Regions from separate parts of the Homo sapiens genome. Here regions 2 and 3 are each linked to region 1. Evidence: fine-mapped QTL for protein levels in blood plasma. A gene starts in region 1. Each other region holds a variant in brackets. All regions are shown on one strand. Distances are between the middles of the regions.

Region 1 (2,761 bases):
TCTCTTCCTCCCTCTAGAACTCCACCCTCAGGGGATGGAATCTTTCCTCTTTAAGCCTATGCGGTTCATTTGTGTCTGTCCTTAGAACATCCTAATTTATACATTTACTGTATTTTAATTCTCTCTTCCCCTGTATCAAACTCCATAAGGGTCGTACTCTACTATAGAAGCCTAAGAGAGAACATTACACATAGCAGGTGCTCAGTCTTTCTGGAACTCTTTTGCATGAGGCCTATAAAATTTTGGTTGAGGCAGGGCAGAACAGCTCACACCTGTAATCCCAGCACTGTGGGGAGGCCTAGGCTGGAGGATTGCTTGAGTGCAAGAGTTAGGGAACAGCCTGGGCAATACAGCAAGACCCCATCTCTACAAAAAATAAAATAAACAAAAAACAAACGTTGAGTTGGTAATTTATAAACGATGATGTCTACCTACCAGAGATTTTCATTAAAACTAAAATGCGAGATGGAATAGTGTCTGCGCTGTCTGGCATTCTGGCTTCAGGCTTCCCTGGTGAATAAATAGGAAGTAAGAACAGTAGCTGAATATTTCAAGTGTCTTTGATCTACAGCTGAAGAGTTTCTCAAACTATGCAGAAATGGGTGGAGAACAACTTTATTAAAGACGGGTCTGGTTTGGGCAACAAGGAGAAACAGCACCAATGACCTGAAATAAATCTTCATAGTTAAGGTTTCAATGCATGAGTAGTCATTTTGTTTTCAATTTAAACCACTAGTTTGGCCCTTGGGTAATTGCAAAGCATTCTCTTGTCAGCCTAAGCAGAAGAGAACTTTGTTAGCAGCAAGGGCTTATAAACTTTCAAGAAAGTGTCGCGATTCACTCCAAACTTTGCTAGTTTTTTCACTAGAAGCGGAGAGTCGGGGTGATGGGGGTTCAACTAGCTGGGGGAGGGACAGCATTCAAAAATTCTCCACCCCCGGCCGCAGGGCCAGGTCCCGCAGGAATCCCTCCCCCAGCCTGCGCCCTCCCCGCACCACGCGGCCACCCCGAGCCTGGGGACCGCCGAGGAGGGGCGCGCGGGAGTCCCACCTACCTGAGTGCCAGAAGCCTCTCGCCCAGGAGCGCCAGCGCGATCCCCAGCAAGCCCACAGCCACCAGCCGCCCCATGGCGCGGGAGCCGGGCGCGCTGCCTCGCTCCGGCCTGGCCAGCAGCTCCGTGGGCGGTGCCATCTTCCCGGCTCGATGGTGCCGGCCGCGCTCCGCCCCGTCCTCCGCCTAGGCCGAGTCCCTGCGTCGGGGCCGCGGAGGCTCCGCCCTGGGCCTGGCCCTGGTCTTTGTCCTCACAAACCTATTTCCCCAGATACCTTCGGGACGGCCCGGACACGCCTTACATTAGGCTCATGATGTGAAACTTTGAATTCCTTCACTTCCTTTTTCAAACAACCCACCCGAAACCCTCTAGCAGCCCGCATACCTTTCTCGTTTCCCTAGTCTTCAAACACATTTCTCACTCGCTATTCCAGTGAGAAACTTACATAGAAAGCAGCTTTTGGGGATGGGGGTCGGTGGCCAAGGGAGGGAAAGTAACGGGATGCGTCGTGTAAATATTTCACGTTGGAATCACTACTTTTTATAACAGGACGTAGTTGCGAATAAATAAACATCCTGTGCCTCGTAATACTTTTTTTTTTTTTTTTTAACAGGGTCTCGCTGTGTTGCCTAGGCTGGAGTACATTGGCACAATCATAGCTCACTGCAGTCTGGACCTCCCGGACTCAAGGGACCCTCCAGCCTCAGCCTCCTGAGTAGCTGGGACCGCAGGCACGTACCGTTACACCTAGCTAAGTGTGTGTAAGTTGTGTGTGTGTCTGTGTGTGTGTGTGTGGAGACCGAGTCTTGCTGTGTTGCCCAGGTTGGTCTCAAACTCCTGGACTCAAGCCATCCTCCTGCCTCAGCCTCCCAAAGTGCTAGAATTACAGGAATGAGCCACCATGCCCAGCCTCTATTAATACTTCCAGACTACAGACTTAAGGACTTAGACACGTCTTTTTCATCCAAACTCAAAGGGAAGAAGTGTAGTTTTTTTCTTTTCCGTTTTTACTCTAACAACCGTAACATGAAGGAATAATTTAAAATACAATTTTAAAAGTAAAATGAAATTTACCCATCAAGATTGATACCATTACAATAAATGAGTACATCTGAAATAAGCTTCTAATGGTTTTCGGTATTTAATTGCCACCCTACAATATGTAGGCAGAAATGGTCACACTTGACAATTTTCAACAAATATCAGTTTTATAAAGAACCAGTAAATAAAAGTGGATGCCAATTTCCCACCTGCCTCTCACCAAAAAAAAAAAAAAAAAAAAAAAGCACAAACACCTCTCTCCCTGTGTGTGTGTGTATCTCTGCTTCAGTCCTAAGGATATTGGATTATACTGGATGGTAGAAAGAGAAGTAAAAAGTTGTCCTTTGAAAGCCCATGAGGCATTACCTTTTTTGTGTCGTGGACCCTTCTGGCAGTGGTGAGCCTGTGGATAACTTCTTAGAATAATGTTTATAAATGCTTACAATAAAATGCATAAATTTTCTCTGTGCGGTTCATGAAAAAAAGAAAGAAGAAAAAAAAATTTTAAATAAATGAATAAAATGTATAGATTGCAAAGAAAATCAATTACATTGTAAGGAAAAAAAATAGCTGAGAGCAGTCTGAGCTTTGTGAGGTATGCAAAATTTATCAGGCCCAGAGCGACATGAGTATGGGACTTCAGTCACGCCCCAATACCCATGCCTGGGG
Region 2 (2,761 bases), 23 kb before region 1:
TCTGAAAGAGCTGCTTTATTCTTTGCTAAATGAAAAATATAGAGCTACAGGGAAGGTAGGTCTCATTTTTCTGAAAGAGCACCATAATGCTTGGATGGTATTTATGCTCCTATTTTTTTTTATCAAGTGCATTTTTGGAAGGAATGATTGGAAGTTACATGCTTATGCCCTAGATAGGCATAGATAGGCCCTAGATAGGCAATATTTTTAATTTCATTAGAAATGAAATTTCATTAGAAATTAAAAATATTCATCAAGTTTAAACTAAAAGAAGCAGTAGGCTAATACACACTGAACTGGGGGTGGGGGTACACATGATTCTCTCTTAGCCACATTTTCAACCAGCTTTATGTTCTTGAAGTGTAATGACTCACTCTCAACTTGAGTGGCTCTAATTCTGTGGGATTACTAGCATGCAACCATCACTAACCCTATGAAAGCGATTGGTATAAAGTCCCATGCAAAGCATACAAACCCAATAAAAAACAGGCCATTCTTCCTTGGCAAGACACTCATCTGGGTGATGAGTCATCTAAGATGGAGGGTGACAGCAGGAAAAAATGTTAGGGTTTGCCTTCTACCCTCAAGATGGGCCTGAAGAGTATCACCCTGTAGTCGGGCACTTCATCATTTCTCAAAGGAGTCCGCATAGAACAGTGAATAGTATGAGTGACATCAACTTTCATATGCCATGCTTGCCCTGGTTTATAAGGAAACTATACACACACATTTATAAATAAGGAAATATAAGCTCTTTAGCTCTTACATATTAGCTAATATATACATTAGCGCTTATAAAAGATGACAGGACAACCCACCATAGGGATTGTTTGCAAATGCTGGGGATAAATTAGAGAAGGAACAAAATGAGGAAGTACCTTGGAAGAAGCTCATGTTTGACTGTTTTCAGATGCAACAGAGAATTTTCTGCTTCTTCAAATTTAAAAATTTCCACTGTATTCTTGAATTCTGGGTGGTTTACAACAAAGAGATAAACTGTGTCATCTAAAGAATTGAAAGAACAGAGTTAATTTACAAGACATAACTACGGGACCTCTGGGCAGGCACTGACATTTAAATACCACAGGCAAGGAAAGGTTGAATGTATAAGCTGTTAGACGACCTAACAGATCATTCTCTGTCTTTCCTATTGCTGTCCGTCTGGTGTTATTTCTGATCATTGGCTCCCTGACCTTTAAGAAAGTGTTTCCTACTCCATATACAGAATTCATGCATAATCTGTTTCTACTTTAATTCAAAAATACAGTTCTTTTTTAAATGTGATGATCGTAGGTATATGAAAAGATTATGAAATCTAAACATTCTTTCAGGTGTTACCTGTTAGGAATTTCAAAATGTAGCATAACTTACTGCCAGCTGAAGAGGCAAATGAACAAGTTCTTTGTAATGAAGAATACAGAAATCACTCATGAGTTAATTGTTCTTCTCTTCCTAGAAATATGATCCAAATCTATTTTTCACAGTCATTTGTGAACCATCACACGTTACTAAATGTTGGTAGCCCATTGGCTCTTACCGTTGTCTATGAAAGTGCTGATGCCATGTGGATTGAATGAGGCCAAATCAAACCCACGACTGATTCTTAATTCCCGTGCC[CT/C]TGGTTTTTCTTCTTTTAGATCCATCATTAGTATTCCTCCAGGCTTATCTGGTGCAAAGCTGTGGAGTCCTGGGAATTTTAGACCCTTTCCAAAACGGTGAAAAATGTTAAATACAAAAGCTTAAGTATTTTTATGGACTAACATGGGAACTGTACATGAAGGATAAATAGAGATTGTGGTTAAAGTAGTGGCATAAAGCCACAAAAACTCAAAAAACAGAGAAAAGATAACAGAAAAAATAATAACGGGGAGGTGGAATACTGAAAGCCTGAAAATAACTGAAAAGAAGATCAGGGATTTATTCTCTTCAGAGAGTAATCAGAAGGTTGGTGGACTAGGTGATTCCAGGGAGAGCTGAGGGTGGAGAAAAGTGACATCTACATACTGACTGTGGAAATTTGTTCACTGCTAGATCCCAGTGCCTGGAACAGTGCCTGGCATACAGTCCATCCTTCTCCCACTGATTCAAAATATCACCTTTATCATGTGCTAGATCTCTGACATTTACATATTGGTCTATTTAGGGACTCTCTGTTTTGTTATTTTAATGTCTCATGTCTATTCCTGTGCCAATATAACACTTTTTAAATTACTACAGCTTTAGGTCAGGCCTGGTGGCTCATGCCTATAATTCCAGCACTTTGGGAGGCTGACGTGGGAGGACTGCTTGAGGCCAGCAGTTTGAGACCAGCCTGGGCAACATAGCAAGACTCTGTCTCTACAAAAAAAAAAAAAAAAAAAAAAAAAAAAATTAGCTGAGTGTTATGGTGAGCACTTGTAGTCCTAGCTGCTCGGAAGGCTGAGGTGGAAGGACCTCTTGAGCGCAGGAGTTTAGGAGTTCAGGCTGCAGTGAGCTATGATTGCACTACTGCACATCAGCCTGGGCAATTGAGCCAGTCCCTGCTTCTCTAATGACAGTTTTGTCTTTTTCTTTTCTATCTCACATTTCTTTTTCTCGTTTTACTGAATTACTAAGAACTCTAGTAGATTACTGATGGTTGTGGTGTTGGGTATTTTCTTCCTGTTCTGAGCATTAATGCAAATGCAGCCAATGCTTCACCATCAAGAATGATGTTTGCTGTAGTTTTGTGGGAATTTTCCTTATCTTTCTAGTTTGCTTGGAACTTTAGGAATGAGTATTG
Region 3 (2,761 bases), 38 kb before region 1:
TAATTTAAAATTTTTATTAAAGTATATTCAGAAAGACTCAATACTTATCTTACAGTCATTTATTTAAAAAAATACCCTTAGATCTACTTTATTATTATTACTATTATTTTATGATTCTCCATGTGGTTGCACTGGGAGCAAATGTAACAATAAAACTCTCAAACTGGAAGTATTACTAATAGGCACCAGGCACCTCAACAGATTCTAGACGTGATCCTCTAAGAAGACCAGCTTCAACTAAGAGAAATACATAAACACTCAAAGACAACTGAAAGCAAGCAGAGGCTTTCGATCCACTCATGAATGTGTATTATCACTTAAAGGTTCTTCTTTCTAGCCCAGTATTGACTTTTCCTGAGACATTTCTAGGCTGGCTATCACCATTGTATCTTCCACTTCAAAAGGTCAAATGCCTACAAAATGCCAGTTACCGCCTGCAGGTTTCAGCTGGTTTGCCCTGCTGTCTGGCCAGCTCTTTAAATCTAGGATAGGTTCCATAACCCAGTACTTCTGCATGGTTAGCCAGACCTGGGCAATGTCTCAGTCAGCCGTAAACATCCAACTGGTAGCCTGATCCTCTCTCCCAAGTCCGGCGTTTCCAATGGACGTCCTTTTTTCCCAAGCAGAATGTTGAGGGCGAGCTGGGAAAGGGGTCATCACGTTCAGAAAGTAAAAGGGGGTCATGACCTTCAGAAAGCAAAGTGGGGGATCATAACCTTCAAAAAATAAATGGGACTAATTCGGCTCGGCAGTCTTTGGAAACGCAAGTAGCTCACTTTCCCCATAAGCGAGTCTCAAGGGGCGGTTTGCTGGGTGAGATGGAGGAGTGAGGTTCCAAAGCTGCTCTTTCCTACCCGCTAGGAAGGGGGCGCCAGGCAGCCCCTGACCTCACTTGGAAGAGGAGAGAAAGAGAGTCGAAGACGCCCTGTCAAGATGCCACTCACCTAAACGCCAGGAACATCTCCCCGACTAAGGACAGGCCGACCCCCAGCAGGACCAGCGCCACGAGCTTCCCCATGGTCTCGGGGTGCCCAGCGGCGACTGCGCGGCGCCGAGAGCTCTCGGGGGCGCGGCGGGCGGTTCCTGCCTCGCGTACGGATTGGGGCCCGCTCGGCCCCGCCCGCACACGCCTCCTACTTACCTGAGCGGCCCGGGTGCCGCAGCAGGGCGCTGACGAGTCCCGCCGAGCCCCGCCGCCCGGGTTCAAGGCCGCCTTCACGCCCACGATTCCTTGTTTTTTGGGCAGAGGTCAAGGCTCAACGGAGAGGGAGCCCGGGACCGAGTTGTGGTGGGAGTTTGCTCCTAACACCCGCGAAATCCTACCTCAATTCCTCAGATGGCCTGAGGGAGAAACCGGAGGGCCCGGGAATGGCGGGGAGCTCCAGTTCAGAGCCGGAACTCCGGACTTCTGCAAGGCCAGACGTGAGGCGACACTGAATTGCTCCCGAGACGCGGGAAGGGCGAAGGCAATCGAAGCGAAGAGCTTTAACTCATCTTCTCCAGGATTTGGGGCACGGGAACCTGTCTCCTGACCTTCGTGCCTTACCTCGGAGTGTGCTGCCCAGACGGACTTGTGAATAGCTGCGTCTGTCCCCATAGTTAACGGGAGAAGGAAACACCAGGAGAAAAGAAGGAAAAGACAGGAAACGGGAAGAGGAGCAGAGGCGAGGAAGGGGAAGGTC[A/G]TTTCCTTGGCAGGGTAGGCCCTCTTTCTTCTAGGTCTTGAGTTCCTGCCAGGCAAGAAATGCTCTTTCCCCTCTCCTGATGAACACCAGGTTGGAGGGGGAGGAACTGAAGATGCGGGAAGACTTGGGGAGTTCGGGCAAAGTAGCACATTCAAGCATGATCTATTTTTATTTACGGACAGAAAGAAATATTAGTTCTGTTAGGTTCCACCGAGTAAACTATTTGTTGAGAGAGCAAGATTTGCCAATCCTGGGGGTATTAAGGAAAGAAAAGGTGGTCCCTGACCTATGGGATACATGATTCTAGTATGAATACGTAATTACAGGATGAATAATGAAGCCCACCGCTTATGCAGTACTGACTGTGTGCTTTGCCTGTGCTGACACCTATGTTAACGCATTTAATTATCAACACAATCTCTGGAGTGTGGGTAGCCTTACCCCAATTTTACAGGTGAGACCTGCAGCACAGATTGCTTATGTGGCTTGCTGTAGGTCAGGCAGCTGTCAAGCAGCAGACTCCAAAATCTGGGCCCTTAACTGAGCTGCCTCTACCATGCTGCCTCTAGAAAATCTATGGAAGAAGGGTTGTATTAAAAGGACAGTGTAACGTCTTGAATTGTATAGATTAGAGTTCTTGTTAAGATGACTAATGTTAAAAGAGTGCAAGCAGAGGAGGAATCGAAGTCAGGAGGGCTCACAGAGCTGAGGGGCCTGGGGTGTGATGTAGACATGCATGCAGGGTTTGGGAGTCAGGCTGCCTGGGTTTGGATCCAGCCTAGATAAAGTACTCAGCTTTATTGAGCTACAGATTCCTCTTCTGTAAAAGAACGTCCACCTCATAGGTAGCTTAAAATTAAATGTGATAATGAGTGTCAAGTGCTCTGCACTGTGCTTGATACGTTTTATGAAGTCAGTAAAGATTAACCACTAATTAATTCTGAACTTTGCTTGAGATTGTAGGCTCCTGTGGGAAGGACTCCATCGCATTGATCACTGGGTTTTCCCGTGCCATCCATAGAACTTTGTGCTTAATAATGACTCAATAAATATGATTAGATGGATGGATGTAAAATATG

Direction of the effects. Alleles are on the strand shown, and positions count from the first base shown. The strength of an association depends on the size of the effect and on how common the allele is.
As copies of C replace CT in region 2, the plasma level of the protein whose gene starts at base 1,205 in region 1 goes down (moderate association).
As copies of G replace A in region 3, the plasma level of the protein whose gene starts at base 1,205 in region 1 goes down (moderate association).

Evidence for each region. PIP is the posterior inclusion probability: the model's chance that the variant is causal. Protein levels are from antibody-based Olink assays in UK Biobank. Linkage for the fine-mapping came from a reference panel and not from the study's own genotypes, which makes the PIPs less certain.
Region 2: its variant is fine-mapped to the plasma level of the PON2 protein (UK Biobank, PIP above 0.99). The variant lies in the coding sequence of PON2. If it changes the protein, the assay may bind it differently, which can mimic a change of level.
Region 3: its variant is fine-mapped to the plasma level of the PON2 protein (UK Biobank, PIP 0.98).

The regions. Positions count from the first base shown.
Region 1 is chr7:95,433,824-95,436,584 of GRCh38, forward strand. PON2 (paraoxonase 2) reads right to left here and starts at 1,205. Exons shown (of 9, transcript NM_000305.3): 1 at 1,055-1,205. The coding sequence starts at 1,128. RefSeq lists a silencer at 888-1,317 and an enhancer at 992-1,562.
Region 2 is chr7:95,410,775-95,413,535 of GRCh38, forward strand. PON2 (paraoxonase 2) reads right to left here. Exons shown (of 9, transcript NM_000305.3): 4 at 1,538-1,703; 5 at 879-1,005. The region is part of intron 1 of LOC107986822 (a long non-coding RNA gene); the gene reads left to right. Among named protein-coding and RNA genes, the nearest start is that of PON3, 16 kb to the left of the region's middle. The variant CT/C (reference allele first, on the strand shown) is at 1,618.
Region 3 is chr7:95,395,333-95,398,093 of GRCh38, forward strand. PON3 (paraoxonase 3) reads right to left here and starts at 1,043. Exons shown (of 9, transcript NM_000940.3): 1 at 945-1,043. The coding sequence starts at 1,018. It overlaps LOC107986822 (a long non-coding RNA gene), which reads left to right and starts at 1,140. Exons shown (of 2, transcript XR_007060439.1): 1 at 1,140-1,696. The variant A/G (reference allele first, on the strand shown) is at 1,683.